Linked DNA regions of Homo sapiens: region 1 is linked to region 2. The links come from fine-mapping of genetic effects on gene expression. A gene starts in region 2. The other region holds a variant in brackets. All regions are shown on one strand. Distances are between the middles of the regions.

Region 1 (2,500 bases), 32 kb after region 2:
CCGGCCACAGCAGCGACTGGCCACGCACAGAGCCATCCTTTCTGGTCTTCACCGCCCTCAAGGATGCATCACAAATGCAATCTCATGATTGCTCTGTGCTGTGCCTTCTGCTTCAGCAGTTACCCAAAGGTGAGATTTAACAGTTTCCCAAGGAGGCAGTGTGGGCTTCCAGGGCTCCCACTCAGATGGGGAGGCTGCCCAAGGCCTGGGCAGTCGCAGGTTGGATGCTCTACCCAGAGCACTTCCTGTCACAGCTTTGCTCCTGTAAAAGCCAACCTCCCCAGTGGGGAGCAGACCCAAGGGTGCACTGCACCCCCACCCCTAGAATGGAGGGATCGTTCAAGCCACTAAAGAATGACTGGGAGTTACCATTGTTTCCATTCTCATCCACGGCAGCAAAGTCCACGCCATTCTCTAGGAGGACTGAGCAGATGGTGGGCAGGTCCTGCTGGGCAGCAAGATGGAGGGCAGTCTGGCGATGCTTGGTTAATTCGTTCACTTTGGCTCCCGCAAGAAGCTGTTGAAGTTCATTACATGAACAGTCAGTCTCTCTGCCACAATCAAGATCCCCCTTATGGGGGCCGAGCCTGCTTGTCTTCTGACACCCACAGAGGCTGATGGCCTGCCCTGCTGACAGAGCTGGGAGCATAGGAGCTTCACACACACTCCTGCTGAAGCAGAAACCAGCAAAACCCGTGCCAAGGGCAAACTGGCAATTACCTATCAAAATGTTAAAGAGCCATTCCTTGGGATGCAGAAACTCTACTTCTAAGGTTTTCGTGTATAAAAGCTGTGCAGGACTGCAGTGATGGCCGCTGTACTATCTACGGGTGTCTACTGCTTGGAATAGGAAAGCCTGAAGGCAAAGGGGTTTGGTTGTAAAAAATTGTAATAGGTACAAACAGTAGAGTAAGATGATAAATATTTATCGATTAACATGGAAAGATGTTGATGACAAGTAAGTTTAAAAAACCTTGCAAATTAGAAGATAGTATGATTCCATCTGGGGAAGACAGAGCTCTGTGTACACACAAGCATGCAGGCACAGAGGCACTTGGAAGGTGTTTCAAAGCATAAATGCCATACTCCGAAGAGCTGGGACTCAAAGAGAGACACTATCTGTTTCACATCCTTACATGCTTTGA[G/C]TTTTTCCACAATGAGTATGTACTATTTCACTATTGTTTTCTATTTATTATTTCTTGAGACAGCAACTTGCTGTGTCACCCAGGCTGGAGTGCAGTGGTACCATCATAGCTCACTGCAGCCTTGAACGCCTGGGCTTAGATGATTGGCCCACCTCAGCCTCCTGAGTAGCCAGGACCACAGGCATGTGACCCTATACCTGGCTAATTAAAAAAAAGAAAAATTCTGTAGAGACAACGTCTTGCTATGTTGCCCAGACTGGTGTCAAACTCCAGGCCTCAAGTGATCCTCCCACCTTGGCCTCCCAAAGTCCTGGGATTACAGCATAAGCCACTGCACCCGGCCTGTTTTTTAAAAGAAAGAACACAGGCCGGGTGCAGTGGCTCAGGCCTGTAGTCCCAGCACTTTGGGAGACTGAGGCGGGCGGATTGCTTCAGCCCAGAAGTTCGAGACCAACCCAGGTAACATGGCAAAACCTCATCTCTACAAAAAATTTAAAAATTAGCTGGGTGTAATGGTGTGCACCTGTAATCACAGCTACTCGGGAGGATGAGATGGGAGGATTGATTGAGCCTGGCAGGTCAAGCCTGCAGCGAGCTGTGATCAGGTCACTGCACTCCAGCCTGGGCAACAGAGCAAGACCATGTCTCAAAAAAGGAAAAAGAAAAAAAAAAGAAAGAAAAAAAGGGACACAAAGAATTACAGAATCAACACAGCCGGAGGGACCTTTACATAATACCTATTCGTTTAGTATTTGAAGTTCGTCATCCTCTTTCTGACAAAGTTTAAAAAACAATCGCTGTAAACAGAAAATACATGTAGTCTGTAGTCAGAACCCAATTTGCTGCTGCTGAGGTGTATGGCCACCCCTGGTTCCTCCGTGTGTACAGGCACTGCCTCTGGGAAAATCTAGGTGCTGCTTAGCTGCTCTGGTTAGGACCCTGACTTCTAAGTCTCAGCCTCCCCAGAACTCTGGGCGCCCAGTCTAATCACTGATCGATAAGACATATGAGTGGATATGGGACTCTCCATACGGGACGTCTCACAGATGTATATTCATGGTCCCTGGTGCTGTGTTAGGGATCATAACTGGCCCCACAGCTGGTTAACTGGGAGGAGAGAGTGGGGAAGGGGTTTCAGTATGAACAGGGTCAAACAGGATGCAGCATCAATTCAGAGGAAGGAGCACACGGACACTGGAAGACCCGCTGTTTCTAGTGTTTCTGGGCGATCCTATCATCTGTCATGCCGGGCCCCAGGAAGGCGGGGTCCTTGGTCAGGGACCGTAACCTCCTCCAGCCCTACAGAGGCATAAAGACTGATGAACACGAGGCCGATTCCCTACGACTTTGGGACC
Region 2 (3,017 bases):
CTGCACATGTACGCCTGAATTTAAAATAAAAGTTGAAAGAAAGAAAAAAAAAAAAAGCAAGAGATCTAGTTGATAGTCTGTTTTACTAATGATTCACTGGGTAACCCTGGATCAGTCTTCTTAACTCGAAGTGAAGCGCCCAGTAAATAAACTCCCAAAATGCCTTCCAAGGAAAATATTTTGTTGCCAAATCAATTTGCTCTCTTAATGACTTAGCAGACATGATCTTGGTGATTATATGAAGAACTGCATAATTACAAGTATTCACAGGAAACCTGGTATTTGCCTATCAGTTTCGGATCCTATGAAGGTTTAAATGAGTCTAATATATGGTTCTTTAAGGATCTACAAACCAGTATGTATTTTAGAAAAGCTAGTTTTTGCATGAGGAGGATAGGTTTTAGAATGTGAGCCTTTCCAGCATGTTACTACTGTCTTTCCACACTTATTCGGCGCCCACACTGAATTGGGAAGGTGCTGTGTAAAAACCTGGACAGGACAATACAAAAAATGGTTCTCAGCGCCACTCCTCCTATCCTTACATCTCTTTTCTCTCCAAACTGTTCGAGAATCTGATAGAAGATCTCCAGAGTAGCGTCAATCAACTGCACAAAGGTCTGCATTACAACATACAGAGAGAGACATATGGGCTTGTCCAGCTCTTCAGAGCAAGGACGGCCTGATGCAGACTTTCCAGACCTCTAACATAGGTTAAAGAGAAACGAAGCAAACGCCTGGTGAAAAGCTGGAAACACCTCATATGGGTCCCCGCCTGGCCTCTCCAAAGCAAATGCCCACCTCTTCCTTCAGTCCCCTGGGGGCGACCGCCCTGCCCCATCCCCGCAGTCGCCTGCCGGCCCTGACCTCCTCGAACTGCTCGCTAGAGCAGCCGGCGCCGCGAGCCTCCAGCAGCTCCCGGAACTGCTCCAGAGTGACAGACTCTTCGCCGCGGCCCAGCCGCTCTTCCAGCCAGCGAAACAACGCGCCGCGATGCCTCGACACCAGCGACTCGCAGGGGGGTGTGGGCAGCAACGCTGCAGCAGCCTCTCGCAGCCTGGCCGGCTCCAGCAGCGCCGCGGCGGGTGGTAGCGCTGGAGCCGCGACGCCCGGGCCGGGGGTCGTGCCCGAGACCGCGGCCCAGTCCTGGTGTGGGCCCCAGCCCTCGCCACCGGCAGCTGCCGCTTCGTCTTCACTGCTGTGACTCGGAGCGTTCCCCATGGGGTCTCCGTCTTGGGCGCCTGGCTCTGCAGCCGCCGCCGCCGCCTCCCCGCCTCGACCTGTCAACCTCCGACAGCAGCTGGCGGGCGGGGACGCGGAGGAGACGACGGCGGCCCCTGCGGCTTCCGGCTTCCTGGCCGTCAAGCGACGACCGCTGTCGCAAAGGCGCCGTCACGTAGATAGGCGGCCTCTACCAACTCACGACAGCTAGGCGGGGAGCGCCGCCTCAAAGGGTGCAACCTTGATTTCCCAGAGGACGAGTCTGTCTCAGTATCTACGTCATTCCGTAGCCTCCGCTGCCGCCATCTTTGTTGGGGCTGACAACCTGCAAGCCAAGAAGTACGAGAAGGGCCAGGCGCGGTGGCTCACGCCTGTAATCCCAGCACTTTGGGAGGCCGAGACGGGTGGATCACCTGAGGTCAGGAGTTCGAGACCAGCCTGACCAACGTGGTGAAACCCTGTCTCTACTAAATACAAAATATTAGCCGGACGTGGGGGCGCGTGCCTGTAATCCCAGCTACTTGGGAGGCTGAGGCAGGAGAATCGCTTGAACCCGGGAGGCGGAGGTTGCAGTGAGCCGAGATTCCGCCAGTGCACTCCAGCCTGGACAACAAGAGCTAAAACTCTGTCTCAGAAAAAAAAAAAAAAAGTACCTGGAAAAAGTCGCAGACAGCGAGCTTTTCGCCAGTGCCAGGAATACAGATAAAACGAGAGAGACTAAGGGAGGGAGCGCGAGCACTAGCGCGCGAGAGAGAGAGCGAGAGCGCGCGCGCCGATGACGTCACGCTCGGCGTCTCGGCCATCTTAGCTGTAGATAGAGGCGGCAACCTCGGAAGTGCGGAGCGGGTGGGCCTATATAGATGTTGAGGTGCGGAGGCCGTGGGCTTTTGTTGGGCCTGGCTGTAGCCGCAGCAGCGGTAATGGCAGCACGGCTTATGGGCTGGTGGGGTCCCCGCGCTGGCTTTCGCCTTTTCATACCGGAGGAGCTGTCTCGCTACCGCGGCGGCCCAGGGGACCCGGGCCTGTACTTGGCGTTGCTCGGCCGTGTCTACGATGTGTCCTCCGGCCGGAGGCACTACGAGCCTGGGTCCCACTATAGCGGCTTCGCAGGTATCAGCGAGGCTGCTCACGCCTTTCTCTCCGCTGGCGCGAGCCAGTAGCCACCTGCGCGTCGTTCGTTGGTTCATTATTCATCTATTTCCCCCCCCATCCCCACCCCACATCCATCAAACCCGTGCGGTGGGCGGGACGAGCTGCATGCACTATCCTTCTAGGCTCTCTGGCTCTGGCGGGACTGTGGGCCAGCTCTGTCATCCACCACCGCCCTGCGTGACTTACATTGGAGAAACATGTCTTCTGTCTCTTGTTACCCATTACCCAGCGTCGGAAGCCCTAGGATACGGGCTGTGTGCCGGACTTTTGTGGGGGCTCTTAGGGCACAGATAAACGAGATCCCGCCCCGCCCCTACCCTCACAGTTTCCTTAATAATTCCAACCATCTCTTCATTATGCCCTGGTCCCAAATAATCTTTCTTCCCCCCACCCCTAAGCATAGTGTTTTCAAGGTTCATCCATGGTTTATGAGCATGCATCAATACTTTATTCCTTTATGGCCCGTCATATAGTACATTTGGTCTGAGTCATTCCTGCTTCTAGTACAAGATGCACCTGTTTGCCTTCCTTAGAAGGTTAGGGCAGAGGAAAGGGGTCCAGTCACCTTTACAGTCCTTGATACGTAGACCAAAGTTGTGCATATGTTAGGCCTCAAGAAACATTTGTCAAATTAAGTTTATGCTGGT

What was found. PIP is the estimated chance that this variant, and not a neighbour inherited with it, causes the effect.
Region 1: its variant is fine-mapped to the expression of CYB5D2 in whole blood (TOPMed, PIP 0.92).

Annotation. Positions count from the first base shown.
Region 1 is chr17:4,173,540-4,176,039 of GRCh38, forward strand. ANKFY1 (ankyrin repeat and FYVE domain containing 1) reads right to left here. Exons shown (of 25, transcript NM_001330063.2): 20 at 370-517. Among named protein-coding and RNA genes, the nearest start is that of CYB5D2, 32 kb to the left of the region's middle. The variant G/C (reference allele first, on the strand shown) is at 1,146.
Region 2 is chr17:4,141,678-4,144,694 of GRCh38, forward strand. It overlaps CYB5D2 (cytochrome b5 domain containing 2), which reads left to right and starts at 1,520. Exons shown (of 4, transcript NM_144611.4): 1 at 1,520-2,328. The coding sequence starts at 2,079. ZZEF1 (zinc finger ZZ-type and EF-hand domain containing 1) reads right to left here and starts at 1,353. Exons shown (of 55, transcript NM_015113.4): 1 at 865-1,353. The coding sequence starts at 1,218. RefSeq lists a silencer at 1,079-1,248 and enhancers at 1,114-1,665, 1,329-1,638, 1,666-2,218, 1,789-2,368.